Homo sapiens: one gene and its partner. The protein of the gene in region 2 interacts with the protein of the main gene of each other region in a pairwise test. Each region holds a gene or a part of one and is shown on either strand. Other genes may lie near its edges.

The links.
Region 1: the proteins of RUNX2 (region 2) and SMAD6 interact in binary tests that used the Homo sapiens proteins (3 or more experiments, as listed by UniProt).

What each region holds. Positions count from the first base shown.
Region 1 is NC_000015.10:66,775,236-66,782,235, reverse strand, and holds part of SMAD6 (mothers against decapentaplegic homolog 6), read right to left. Parts: intron 1,240-7,000; coding exon 701-1,239; 3' UTR 1-700. UniProt on the Homo sapiens protein: Transforming growth factor-beta superfamily receptors signaling occurs through the Smad family of intracellular mediators. SMAD6 is an inhibitory Smad (i-Smad) that negatively regulates signaling downstream of type I transforming growth factor-beta.
Region 2 is NC_000006.12:45,421,775-45,429,934, forward strand, and holds part of RUNX2 (runt-related transcription factor 2), read left to right. Parts: intron 1-70; exon of another isoform or gene 71-442; intron 443-500; exon of another isoform or gene 501-802; coding exon of another isoform or gene 803-818; coding exon 819-1,183; intron 1,184-8,160. UniProt on the Homo sapiens protein: Transcription factor involved in osteoblastic differentiation and skeletal morphogenesis. Essential for the maturation of osteoblasts and both intramembranous and endochondral ossification.

The DNA of each region.
Region 1 (7,000 bases), on a different chromosome or scaffold from region 2:
TTCTTTTCCCCACCGCCATCCCTATCCACTGGACACCCCATAGCCATGGGCAGGAAGGAACAACAGAACTTTCTCTGGTTTACTTAAGAGTAAATGTGACTTTCCTCCCTTTTCAATTTGTTCTGTCTTTATCCAATAAAAGTAAAACTTGAAAACTGAGGTCAAGTTTCAAGGTACATGATGGGTCAGAAATCCGCTGAAGCCCTACCTGCCCCTCTTTGTAAAAAGAAGACAGTTTAAAAAAAACTATAATGCGAATACTTTATTATCGAGTGACTGGTATTAGCTTTTTGTCTGGGCATTAATATCTCAAAAACCATACACCAAACCCAGGCTTTTCCACCTAGCTCTGCTGTATCATTTTCTTTATATATATATATAAAAAGTAAGGAAGAGGAAGGAGGAAGAGAAAGAAAATATATCTGTATTGAAAGAATTATAAGCCAAAGTGCGTCTTTCTTGTTTTGTCCATATACACACATTGCACCATACATAAATAATTACATTGTAAAAATGACTCCATAATTACAAGTATAATATATATTTCCATATAATATATAAAACTTTATATTAAATCTAGGTAGATGATATCTGGGGGGTTTTGTCCGTGGGGGCTGTGTCTCTGGGCATCGGCCCCTCTCGAGGCCGGCAGGTGGCGGTGGCCGCGGCCTCCCACCCGCCCCTCCCGCCGGGGCCGCCACTATCTGGGGTTGTTGAGGAGGATCTCCAGCCAGCAGGGGCAGGAGGTGATGAACTGCCGGGAGTAGCAGGGCCCCCAGCCCTTGGCGAAGCTGATGCGGACGCTGTTGGGGTCGTAGGGGCCGTCGGCGGCGTCGGGCTCGGGCGCGTGCTGCAGGCCCGAGCGCTCGAAGTCGAACACCTTGATGGAGTAGCCGGGGGGCACCTTGCGCACGACCAGGGCGCGGCCGCCGGGCGCGTCCAGCGTCGGGGAGTTGACGAAGATGGGGTGCTCGCCGCGGTTGTAGGCCCACACGCCGTCGGGCTCCTTGCTGAGCAGGATGCCGAAGCCGATCTTGCTGCGCGTTCGCCGCACCGACTCGCTGCGCTGCTCCAGGTTGAGCTGGCCCAGGCAGAAGCCGCTGCCCTGAGGTAGGTCGTAGAAGATGCTGACGGCCTGGTCGTACACCGCATAGAGGCGGCCCACGCGCGTCCGGTGCTCCCAGTACGCCACGCTGCACCAGTGGCTCGGCTTGGTGGCGTCCGGAGACATGCTGGCGTCTGCGGGACAAGCACAGGGACCGCCGCGTTATTCTGGGTGGGGAGGTGGGAGGCACCGAGGAGCGGAGGTGGGCACTGCTGTCTGCACAGTGGGAGCTGGGTAAGGTTTCCAGCATTCAGCAGTCATGTGGGCACCGTGTGCCAGGTTGTCCTCAGGAAATATGGCGCACAACGGGACATCTCTTTCACACACACAAGCTCACACAAAGGAGAAAACAAAGGTTATGAGCCACAGAGTGCAAGCCAGAGAGCACCTGTTGTGTGCTAGATGCTGCGGACGCAGACATGAACCATGCACACCCTGCCCCTGCCTCTTCATGCTAGCAGGAGAGACAGACAACTGCCTGCACGCCCCCAAAGGAGGGGCTGACTGTGGAGCAACCATCACGGACCCGGCGTGGAGCACTGTACTTCTTACTCTTCACAGCACACAGGACTCACTTGGTCCTCACGATCACTCTGCAAGGACGCCACCTTCTCCTCGTTCTACAGAGGAGGGCACCCCGCCAGAATTTGAACCCACTAGTCCAAGTCTCAACCTGACAGAGTAGGGTTAGGCTATTGGGGGATGGCGGGGGAGGTTGAAATCACATTAGAGGACTCAAGCACAGGGAGGCGGGCTGGGGGTGGGAGGAGTTGCCCCCAGGATCCCTTCCGGCCTGGAGCAGTGGGATTCCTGTGGTGGCCTTGTTATAAATATGACTGCTTGACTGCTCCCTGACTCAGCCTTAGCCTCCTGGTACCGCCCACCTGAGTTGGCTTTCTTGGCAGGAAATGCAGGTTTGTACCAGAACTGCAGCTACTTCTGCATGGCAGAGGAGCTGAGGGTCCCTAAATGACAAAGAAAATGGCTCCTTAAGGGCTCTGGAGCTGCCCAGCAATTGAAGGTGTGTGCTGCTCCTCTCTGGGCCTCAGTTTCCCCACTGTATAGCAAAGGGGTAGCTAAGATGTTACTGAAATCCCTTGTCACTGACTCGGGCCGTCTGTGTGTCTGGAGGAGTTTAACAATTTTCTGAGACCAAAGTTCAGACCAACACAGGCCAGGGTGCTCCCTGCTCTCATGTGGCCAGCTTCTCAGATTCTGACATCTGGCCTTTCCTTTGAGCTCACAGCTCTGAGAAGCAGGCAGGCACCTATAACTGCCCAGTGAGGTGACATGATTTGCCTGCCATGCCTGCTTCCACACAGGTCTCTGGCCTGGGCCTGTGCAGAGGGAGGCGTTCTGCTGGAGGCTTGACAGAGCAAAGCAAAGCAATTCATGGCTCTTTTTCTGAGGAAAACTGATCAAAGTCCAACCAAATCCCAGAGGACAACACTTCTAACAGCTTCACCTGGGAGCCTGAGTGAGGCCAGCTCTGGACGCCTTTGCCTTGGTCTTGCCCCTGCCTAGAAGCCCCAGAAGAACAGGGTGGCAGGGCCCCTGACATCCCCTTACACACTGGGAGGCCCGCCCAGCCACCCAGCAGGAGGCTGTCTGCCTCAGGGGCCTCCTGGAGGCTGACTGCTCTGCTGTGGCTTTGGGCTGGATACAGGTTTCATGAGTGTGCCCCTTGTCCTGGGCCTGGCACTGAGGTCCCAGACACAGGTCCCCAAGTCTGCTGGGGGGTAATCCAAGTCCTCACACCAGCCCGCAGCTTGGATCATTTTGCCTCAGAGTCTCCAGTGAGGCCTCTGATGCTTCCAGCTGATGGTCAGGAGAGGAGGAAGAGGTCCTGCATCCTGCCCTCGACAGAACTGCCCCTTAGCCAGTGGGCAATAGTGACAGAGACAGCTCAAGCCCTTGGGAGGTCACTAGGCTGCAAGCATCAGGCCAGTCCCAGCAGGTGGGCAGCTGGGAACAGCCAGACTCTGAGCTCCAGCCACCCCACTCCAGTGCCCCTCTCCCCAGCCACCCCACTCCAGTGCCCCTCTCCCCAGCCATCTACCTGGCACAGGTCTGGGAGTCCCCAAGGGCCAGAAAAGCAGCACCATGCCAGCCTAGCCACGAAACTGCAGCACCCACACTGCCCACCAACCAACAAGAATTCCACGAGTGTGTCAGGCACAGCAAGGTGGGGATGCAAAGAAGCGATGCCTGGAGTATGCTGGGAGACAGGACGGGCAACGGCATCCATGAGTGCCTTCTACGAGCTGGGCCCGTTCTTCACAACAGCCTCATCTCACCTCTACTAGCAGCCCATTCCACAGGTGAGGAAACTGAGGCCCAGGGTATACACCAGTGAATGCTGGGGCCGCCTTGGTGCTAGGCCACACTCTAGAGGGGAGCTCTTCTCCACACTCCAGATAGAGTTCTGTCCTGGCTCCTTCCTAAAACCTGCACACTGAGCAAGTCCCTCTACCTCCCTAAGCCTCAGTTTCCCTATATGTAAGCATGACTGCTCTCATGGTCCATGAGCCCTAGAGGTTACTATTTACAAGCTGAGGTGTCACTATCCCCACTCTTGGAGGACTCACTTTACTGTCTCACTAAGGGAGGGGTCACTGCTGCACCTCTTCACAGACAAGGCTCTGAGACAGCTGCCCAGCCACAGAGTGACAGCTCTGCCCCACCCATGGAAAAAGGGAGAGTCTAGCTGGGGAAGGACAGGGGCACAGGGGGCAGGGGAAGCGACTTTCTCTTTCCCAGCTTCCAAAAGGTTTCTGGCTGGGAACTCTGGGAGGCTGAGGCAGGAGGCTCATTTGAGCTCAGGAGTTTAAGCCCAGCATGGGCAACAAAGCAAGACCTCATCTCTAAAAAAACTTTTAAAAATTAGGTGGGTATGATGGTGTACATCTGTAGTCCCAGCTACTTGGGAAGCTGAGACAGGAGGATTGCTTGAGCCCAAGTTTGAAGCTACCGGGAACAGTCATTGTGCTACTGCATTCCAATCTGGATGACAGAGTGAGACCTTGTCTCAAAAAAAAAAAAAAAGGAAAAGAAAAGAAAGTTTTTCAATTCAAGGACAGGTGGGACTTCCTATCCCCCTCCTCTCAGTTCCCTCCACCCCAGCCAGGCCAAACTCCTTCCATCCCCCCAATCAAAACCCATGTCCCCAGCCTAGCCCCAGCACACCTTATGGTACCCTATGACTGGGGATGAACCCATAGAGCCGCCTTCAGGCCTTGCCTGCCCCAGCCATCCAGCTAAGGGACACCCTGGGCTTGAGCCAGGCCCCATCCCCTGCGGCTTCCTTGGTTGAACAGACTGGGTTACACATCATCAGGCCTGCGCTCCTGGCCATGTCTCCCAAATTCAGGGAGACAGACTGCCACTCTGGGAAGCCCTCTCTGACCTCTCCTTCCTGGGGCACCTGAACTGCAGCCCCTCCCTTGGCCTTAACAGGTGTCTGCGCTCCTGGTCAGTGCCCCCCAGTTGGTCTACACTCTCTGACTGGTAAGGGGAGGGGTGGGTCTCCATCTATCCCAGGGCTGCATATATTCCTTGAGCTCAAGCAATCCTCCTGTCTTAGCTTCCTGAATAGCTGGGACTGCGATGTACATCATCATGCCCAGCTAATTTTCAAAAGCTTTTTTGTAGAGATGAGGTCTTGCTTTGTTGCCCAGGCTGGGCTTAAACTCCTGGGCTCAAGTGACCCTCCTGCCTCAATTACTTTTGCACCAACCTAATAAAAGGGAAGGGGACAGGAAATAAAATATGTCCCAGTGCCTAGACATTGCCCCCACCCCACACCCCACGGGGAATCCTGCCCAGCAGGTAGGCTGCTGGGCTCAGGCCCTAGGGCACTGAAGCGTGGTGGGCAAAAACTGGGGTCTCTTGTCTGATCCAGAGGGTAAGCCACCCACTCAGCCTCCCTGTCCCCACTCAACTCTCAGTCCCAGGGCGTCAGAGCTCGAGTATCCGCTGACATTATCTTATCCAGTGAGACCCAACACTTCAGGCTTCCACAAACCAACACATGTTTTTAACAGGGGAGTTGGGAATGACACAGGGCGACCACTGCTTCGTTTTTGTTTTTGTTTGAGCAATGGTCTCACTCTGTCACTCAGGCAGAAGTACTGTGGTGCAGTCATGGCTCACTGCGGCCTCGACCTCCCAGGCTCAAGCGATTCTCCCTCCTCAGCTTCCCAAGTAGTTGGCATTAGAGGCACACACCACCGGGTTTTGCCATGTTACCCAGGGTGGTCTCAAACTCCTGGGCTCAAGCAATCTGCCTGTCTTGGTTTCCCAAAGTGTTGGAATTACAGGCATGAGCCACTGCTCACCCAGACTACCACCGCTTTATTTTGCCATGTACAGACTTATTTTCTAACTTATTTTTATTTCTGTCACCATGGACCAATGAAAACTTGGTCCTGAGACTGGCCTGTTGGGACCACTAATGGAGTCTAATAATCTGGTGCCCCAAAGATAGCATCCTGGGGGGCGTCAAGGGACTTGCCCAAGTACACACAGCAGCAGGTGGCAGACCTAGGGCCAGAACTTGAGAGCCCAGAATTCTACTCTAATCCATGCCACATGGTCCAAAAGGTTTCACAGTGAGAATGACCTAAGGCTGCCACCACTGACTGGATATGTGGCCATCGATAAACTGCTAAACGTCTCCAAGCCTCAGTCTCTGTATTTGTAAAAGGACTGATTCAATAATTAAGTACCCCACTCACCACAGTCCATCTCTGAATTTTCTGGAAACTCTGGCAAAATCAAGTGGGTGCAGAAGGAAGGAGGTGCCTTGTTTACGGGCTCCAGTGTTGGCCTTACCCTTCAGAGGCCAGGGATCTTTAGTGGGGTTGGGGGTCATGGCCCAGGGTCACTGCCATGGAAGGTCTCAATAGGACTGTGGATGACAAGGCCCTTTGCAAACCGCAAAGCACTTTACAAATGTTAGGGGTTAGCCCCTAGCCTGGCACCTGCGGTGAAAGAGGTGCCCAGTGAGTGAAGGAATGGAAGAATGAAGCAACAAATGTCTGAATGTCTAGAATGAGCCCTGCTTTAGCTCCATTCTCTCACACACATACGTGCATTCAGATTTCATGCGGTGTGTCCAACACAAGCTGACGTGCTCTGCAACACTATGAGTGAGAAGGTGGGCACCCCCTAACCCATGGTCCCCACTCTGTACTTCCCACAGCTGCACAGCCCCCTCCCCCTGTGCCTCTCAGTCACAAGCCTGGGCTGCCACTCAGGTGAGGGGACAGTCTCTTACAGAAGGATCTTTTTCTCCTCGTGGTTCCTAGGCTGTGGTACTGCCATCTCCCACGGCCATCAGCCTAATTAGGAACCAGCTCTTTAATTGCAAATAAATACCAAGGAGTCAGACACGAGTGAACAACATCAAAGATGACCGAGCTCTGACCGAAACTCCCGCTCACTACCCCCTGCTCAGGGCCTGGCCTAGTTCCCAGCCAGACTCTGGGTCCTGCTGGGAGGGTTCCAGGGGGAGGAGGAGAGGAGCTGTGTCTGGGGTGGATCTGGCAGAGTGGCACTAGCCTGGGAGGAGTCCTGCCTCCTGGCCCTGATCCAGCAGGTCATCTCCCTCCTCTGGCCTCAGTCTTCCCATCCGAACAATGAGATCATTACTCTCCCCAGCTCTAAATTTCCGTGATTTAGTTAATGTTGCTAGGACTAGTAGCTCTAGTCCTAACCACCCAAACCCAGAAACCAGCTCAGATATCTATCAACAGAAAACCAATAAACAAAAACTAGGCACATCCAGCCAATGGAACACTACTCACCAAGAAAAAGGAACAAGCTACCGAAACCTGCAACAAGGTGCATGAATCTGAAGGGCATCCCATTGAGCACGAGAGGCCAGACACAGGG
Region 2 (8,160 bases):
TGGCGGCGGCAGCGGCTGCGATTCGCAGGCTCGAGATTCGTTGCCCCGAGATCCGCTGCCCACGACTTACCTCTTGGCACCTTGAAGCGCGAGAGACAGGGGAGCTTTGCAAATTGCAGGAGGGAGTGGATGCAAAGAGGTGGCTGTGAGAGGGCGAGAAGAAAAGAAGGGAAAGGAAGGAGCCTAGCCGGGGAGCCGGGCTGGCAGCCGCCGCGGGAGGAATCTGAGCGTGCAGCCCGCGCGGGGGGAGCGGCGGCCGCCGCGGAGGCGGCGGCGCGGGAGGGCGGAGGCGCGGCCGCCTGCAGCTGGGTAGCAGCGCGCGGCGCGGCGCGGCGGTGGCGGGCAGCGCGCGGCAATGCCGGCCCCGGGGCTGGACTGCTGAACCCACACCGCTTCACCACCGGACTCCAACTGGGAGGGGGCGCCAGCGCACCCAGGACGCGGTGCCCCAAGGGACCCCATTCCAAGCTGCAAACTCAAGTCCCCCGCCTCCCCAGGCCAAACACACCCCCGCGCCCGTTCGCAGCTGCCACCCCGGGTGTTCCAAAGACTCCGGCAAAGATCTGCGCCTCCCGGGTCTCCCTACCCGCCAGCCCGACTGCGCCGCATCGCCAGACTCTGTTGGCCCATCAGACTCCGCCCGGCAGTCGGCCTCATCAAACTTGATTTCTCACCTCCTCAGCCCCATCACCTCCATCCTCTTTCCCCCCGTCTCGCCTTCACCCCCCCAATTTCCTCCTTGCCCCTCATTTCCACCCTCCTCCCCCTCCCCCGGCCACTTCGCTAACTTGTGGCTGTTGTGATGCGTATTCCCGTAGATCCGAGCACCAGCCGGCGCTTCAGCCCCCCCTCCAGCAGCCTGCAGCCCGGCAAAATGAGCGACGTGAGCCCGGTGGTGGCTGCGCAACAGCAGCAGCAACAGCAGCAGCAGCAACAGCAGCAGCAGCAGCAGCAACAGCAGCAGCAGCAGCAGGAGGCGGCGGCGGCGGCTGCGGCGGCGGCGGCGGCTGCGGCGGCGGCAGCTGCAGTGCCCCGGTTGCGGCCGCCCCACGACAACCGCACCATGGTGGAGATCATCGCCGACCACCCGGCCGAACTCGTCCGCACCGACAGCCCCAACTTCCTGTGCTCGGTGCTGCCCTCGCACTGGCGCTGCAACAAGACCCTGCCCGTGGCCTTCAAGGTAAGAGGCTACACCGCCCCCCGCCCCCGGCCGGGAGCGGCGGAACCTGCCCGCCGGTGTCTTCCTGCCCACGGGGCTGGGCCCCGGACGTCCTCCAAGACCTCCTGCCTTGGCGGCTCTAACCCCAGAAACCCCCGGCCGGGCCTCCCTCCGGATGCCCTGGCGGGCTCGGGGCTCAGTCCCTCCGCGCAAATCCCTCCCTCTCCCACCTGTGCCCGCTGCCACCCCGACTTCAGCCCTAGTCCCCCTGACCCGTTCAGCACTCCTCATGCCTCCTGCCTGGCCTTGATTCTCACTCACTCCTTCGCGCCGTCTCCCTTTCCCCCAGGATCCCCAAAGTACCCACTCTTGCACTGCGAGCGGACTTGCTCCACCCCGCCCCTTTCCCGGGGGCGAGGATCCCCGGCATTGTCCCCTGGGGCTCCCGCGTCCTTCCGGGACATCCCGGCCTGGCCGCATTGCGGGCTGCCCGCGCAGCCTCTCTTTGGGGCTCCGCGCGCTCTCACCCGCTTCCCTCACAGCCAAACGCCTCTCCTCAGGTCTCGGCGTCCCCTTCCCCGACCCGCAGAGTTCAGCGGTCCTGGTCCCTCCCGGGCTCCCGTGCCGGGATTCGTGGGGTGCCGGTGCCGGGCATTAGTGCCCGGGGCTGGGCGTGGGGTGCTGACTGAGGCGCGCGGGCTGCGCTACCAGTGCCCGGGAGGGTCCTGGACAAACCTAGGGTCTCCAGAGGAGGGGGTGTCAGGGCGGGGGCGTTTGCTCTGTTCGCTGACCCGCGCCAGATCCCGTTACCGGGAGGAAGGCGGGGCCGCTGGGGCGTCCGCAAGCCCCGAAGCGGGGGCGTTCAGGGGGCCTGGGCGCTGAACCCTCGAGTGCTGGGAGGCGCGGGCCAGGGGACGGGGCGGGAGCTCGGGCCGCTTCTTCCAGCCGGGACCGAGCTCTGCGCCTCGCCCCGCCAGGGAGGGATGAGGGAAACCTGTGGAACAACTTTAGTTCGCCCAACTTGAAAACGGAGGTGAAATTTTGTATTTTTGCTTTATTATTATTTTTAAAGGACTTAAATCTAAAAAAGATCCCTCCTGCTTCTGAAAGGTGGTGAGAGGCTCCTGCTGGTGGCCTGAGCACGGAGTGAGCTCGAAGGCTTGAGAGCGGCCTCTGCGCGCCCCGCAGACTCTTGTGCCTGCCCGGCCCGTTAGTTTGAGGGCGGGTGGCAGCCGCGGGAGTCGCAGGCAGGTGCTCCGCAGGTTGAGGTTTTAGGATCTGGAGCCTCTCACAGTAGCCCGATGGCTCTCCATAACCCGATCCAGATTTCCCGGGGTAGCCCTCTACAGGGGGGAGACGCGGAGCCCCCAGGGCCCAGCGCACACTGGGTTGATGGGGAAACGGGTTCCCAGGCTGTCCACACTCGCAGGACTGTCCACACTCGCAAGACGCCAGGGATGCAGGGGTGGTAAGCCAGACGTGGAGATGAGACTCTCAGAAAGGTGCTTTGGGCCCTTGCTAACCTCTGAACTTGAGTAGGTGGGCCTGGGTCCCCTGGGTTCTGAGGTCTGTGGAGAGCAGGGCAAGCAAGGCCTTGGGGGAGGTTAAAAAAAAAAGTTGGGGGAGGAATCATGCCAGTTTCTCCGCTGGGGACCCTGGGGCCAAACTCCCACGGGCCACTGACAGTTCCCAGTTGTTGATCACCCCCACCCCACGCACCAATTCAGATTCCGTGTGTGGGTGGGATGGAAAGAAAGAGGAGTCCAGGTCAATTAGACCTGGTTATCTCGCTAGGACTTATATCAGAACAGAAATCAGAATGAATTGTTATGGAAAGGGGATGTTGCATTCTGGGGCAAGTTTCATTTTGCAGTTGGCTCAAGAAATTTTTTTTTTTAACCGTCACATTTCTCCTTTTATAAACCACCCATTTTGTAGGTTAATGTTTGCTTCCTTGAAATAGGAAAAGCTCAGAATACATGTGAATTGTATAAATTTAAATTTCCATACAATATATATCTTTTACAATGTCCATCGTCCAAGGGCCCAGAATTTTTAAATTAGTCTTATATGAGAATGGAAATTTGTTTCCACCAACGCCCTCCAATCCCCCAAACCAAAAGCCCCCAAAAACCCCAAACCTGGATGAAAACAGCAAAAAATACAAATAAGTAGATACCTTGTCTGCACAATGCCACAAATCAGAATATGTGAAAATATAAGAACAGATGCTTACATTTTTAAAGTGTTCCATATACCATTCTGCTAAACATATTTAAGGTCTATCTTGAACTGTTCTCTTGCATTTATGCGGCTGAATTGATTTGAACATGAGCATTTTGGATGGAAAGGTTGTTTTTTGCACTTTAGCTTGAGCTAGTCTCAGATATTTTGGCTGTCATCTAAGATTTTTCACTACCACCCTTTAAAAATTATTTTGAAAATAAATTTTGCTCTTTGTTATTAATCAACTTGTTAATCACACAGAGTACATTTTTGTATCTTAAGCAGTAAACAGACCGTAGGTAACAAGACCATATTAAATTGACTATTTTAATTCATATCAATTGAATAATGAATTGAGTTAACCTACAACCTGACTGTCAATGTCTTTCTATCAACATACCTGTGTTAAACAATTCAAAAAGTGGGTGATAGCTAAGATCTACTCAGTATAGAAAATACTCTGTTGAGAAAAAATGTATGGATGTTTGGAACATCCAGATTGTGACAACCTCTCTTTACCCTACTTTTGGAATAAAAGCCTGAGAGCACTAGACTTTCTATACTCTTACAATATAATCAAATACATCTGCAATGAAGAAATAATATGAAGAAGTCTCCCTTTTAAAAGTGGTGACAGCAATTTGGCCATGATATTTAGAGCTATGTAAAAAATAGATTATAGTGGTTGTCAGGTCAATAGCAGATAGGTAAATGGATTTAAACACACACATACACACACACACACACAACTTATTTGTTGTGAAGTCTGATATTCAAATCAATACAATATTTATTGAGCCCGTATTTTGTATCTGTCACACTGAGCTTGACACCGCAGAGAATCAGAAATGAATTCAATAGACTGTTTTGAAATGTCAGTTTAAACTCGTGTTTAAACACGATATTGTCAATCTATTTCATTAAGAATGTATTAGCGTTGTTCATCTACTCTTGTTTCGAGATGATATAAAATTTATTTATTTTTACATGTAAAAATGCAAAAACAACTGGTATACTTTATATAAAGTTGTTTATTAACATTGTATTTTTAACAAAGTTCTGCAGTTTTGAAATGTTCGGTCCCCCCAGGTGTCAAGGAAACGGAAATAAATATTTTTAACATTTTCAGGTGTATCTCACTGAAACCTTAAAATAGTTAGGGCATACTATTAGAGGATCCCAGACCCTTTCTATCCTAGATAATTCTAGTGACAAAGAAGTAATTTGCAAATTCAGCTCATTAGCTGATGGTCAGGTAACGGTGGAGAGAGCGTGTCAACCATGCATCCAGTAGCACCCTTTTAGTTAGGGGTCTGTCAGCATTTCCACTGTGAAGCCTGGTGTTCAGGGTTCGTAACTTAGTTGCCTTAAATAGCTTCAAGCTGAAACACTATGCAGAAATTTTAAGTCCAGATGTATATTTTAAAACTAAAAGTAGTTCAAGTCTATTCTGCTGTTTTAAGTTAGAGAACACTGGACTACATATATTTATCAGTATCATATGTTTTTCTGGCAGTGTTAAAGAAAGAAAACACATTTTTAGATATATAAGCTAGCACTCATAGTTAATTCTGTATATTTAATAATACCTTTCAGTGCTTGTCAAAAGGAGGGGTTTCAAAATGACAGAGCAATTTCTGTTTGAAAATAAATTTTTGGCATCACTAGCCATTTTTCTCTCTTCGAAAACAAATATACAACTGGTAAATACTTGATACCAGTGAGTAGTATTTTTCTTACATAGTTAATGATCAGATTTTATGTTTATATTTTTTGAATCTCATTGTATCTAAACTAGGGAAAATAGGTTGTTAAGCCTGTTAAATCCTTATTAACCGTAATATAAATTATTATGCAAAATTATGTAAATCAATAGATTTCAAGTTGTGTGAAGACAGACACATTTTTGTGTTATGCCTTTGAATTCAAGAAAACTTATTTAAAGTTAAATATTTTGGGACTGAATATATAAAACTTCTAAGTAAGGAAGTTGGAACAAAGAATTTCAGGTGGAAAATAAATACTTATAAAATTTTTTAGAAAACTTCTATTAAATATTTGAAAATAGGTATGGTAGATATCTTTCATTATTTTTTCCTCTTTGGCATTATTGTTTGTATCCTTTCAAAATTCCAGAATATCTATTGTTAGATGATCTAAACCACCATGATACATGGCCCACAAATTGCTGCTTTACATTGAAATAATTTTTATCAAAATTTATCTTTGACATATATATTTTTAAAATTATGAAATGACATATTGTGTTTTTTCTCTAAAATTCAATGGGCTTTTCCTAAGTTCTAGGATAAATTCAAAATATTAACTGTAGTATTTGTTGAAATGTTTTGATACTGTATTTGAAGTTATCTTTAAGTAATTGTGATAGGAATAACATTTTTGCTTTTTGCAATTAGTCTCACTTCTCTTTTTATTGCAAAGAAAGATTTGATCAGATTTTATCTTGAAAAATAATTATATTTCAATTATACCGCAAGTACAATATCCTGAATTATTTTGGCCTATAAGAGTAATTGATTAGTTAAGACTAGACTTCTGTCCATGGAAATGTCATAGGCAATTTTAATTTCCATATAAAAAGATGAGAAACTGTTTTAAGGGTTTGAGTTAATTCTCCATTCCTCTTCTTTTAGTGATTCACAGATTTAGTCATAAGGAGTCTCATACAAAATTTCAATAGCATTACTACAGTTAAATATCCTTCTACTTTATTTTGTGCAAGCCACATATCATGTGATTTAAATGCTAGTTATGGTGAGGTGCGCTAAATAAAGGAACGTCTTTCTCTATTCTGAAATGTCAGGACAGAAAATTACTTCTCCTTTTCTCATGGAGTTTCTTGAATTTGTAGATTTTATATTTTAAAAAAACATAGAAATGTAATTGTTAAGATCATCACAAATTATTCTTTGCAGAGCAGTACTTTTGTATTGGGTAGGATGGAAGCAAATTCTAATTTGTGCTTATTCCTAACTAGTTAAAGAGCGAGTTTTGACTGCACTTTACCCCTTCAAATGTTTTTCCATTGCTTGGTTTTGGTACAGATGAAATGTGTAAAAATTTCTTGATTCTTTTGGTTTTCTTTTAGATAAACACAGTTGAGAATCTCCAAGGGAAACTTTTTAGCTTCAGAGATCTACTTAAAGAAAAAACCTCTCAAACATATAATTATACTTCTGATTGATATAAAGTCAAATACAGTACTTCCCCCAACTCCCAACCTTTTCTCCCCCTCAGAAAAACATCGGGCAATCTGATTTGGTAGAGTGAATAGCAGAAAAAAAACCAATATATTTAGCCATTAAACTAGAGTTCAGCTTTAACAGGAAAGATTGTCACTACCTTGCATTAGCATTTTTTTTCAGGTCTTGCTCTCAGCCTCATAGAAGGCTCACACAACTTGTGATTATTTATTTGTTTTGTAAAATGTGATACGTAAAACACACTAATATTGAATATGGTCATTATTATACTGCTTAAGCACAGTAAAATGGATGTATGTATTTCACTCTTAGGGATCTTTTCTTTCATATTTTCCCATATTGAATCAATTTTCCATTTCTTCTAACTAAAAAAAAATTCATTATGTTAAAAATATGCAGTAAAATAATAATGTCCCAGAGTTCTTGAAAACCTTTATATTGGGGCAGATTGCTTTTTTTTTTTTTTTTTCGGAAATGTAGCCAGACTTGAGTGAAATCCACCAGCAGTCATCCTGTATCTCTCAACAACATCAAAGAACATCTCAGAACATGAAGTGAGGAAGTACGTACTCAGTTGAACCCTTTAAGAATGCTTATAAGTAAAAGCCTATGTTTAACAGACAGCAGATTTGGAACAGAACACTGTGTTACCCTCCTCATCTTACAAAAAGCACATCATTATAATTACACTCTATACTTATATAGTATCTTCTACATTTTGCAGACTTTCCAATTCATATTGGAAAACTGTGGTTCCTGGAGATGAAGTTATTTTGTGTGAGGTCATAGCAGATATGTAGCAGAAGTGGGGAAAAAGTGGAGCCTCTTGATTTTGGTATATTCATTCTCTTCTAAACAGTACAACTTTTCTCCTGCCTTTATTAATATGCTTACTGGGTCCATATTTACTTTGACATAGAAAGCCACGCAGCAGGTGTTAAAATACAATATGCTGAGTGTACAAAATGTCAAACATTCAGATGAATCCTGGCGAATGTAGTCAATTATTGCAGTATTTTCAAATGTTCACATTTTTGGCATGGTGAATTTGAAAAATTGAAAAGCACATTGCCTCCATCAGGAGTACAGCATTACCTGTATTCAGTAGCCGCTTGAGATATGAGATGACGTGTACAGAGAGGAAGTCTTATTTTCAAGGGATTTTACTTTTGATCCAGGAGACTTCTCATATTGAGAATAACTATATTCTCCAGGGAAAGGGAGGCAGCATGGTTCCGTCTCCTCTGAGATGAAAACAATGTCAGAAAACAAGCTGGGGGCAAGGGCACATTGCTGTTAGCAAGGGGTGCTGACTCAACATTAACTGGCCCTCTCAGAGTTTTAGTGGGTAGCCCCACAGACTTCTGTCTCTGCGAAGTGGGGCTCTTTATGGAGCTCTTTCATTTATTTCAAAAATGTTTACCTGGCTGGGCTCGGTGGCTCACGCCTGTAATCCCAGCACTTTGGGAGGCTGAGGCGGGCGGATCACCTGAGGTCAGGGGTTCAAGACCAGCCTGGCCAACATGGTGAAACCCCTTCTCTACTAAA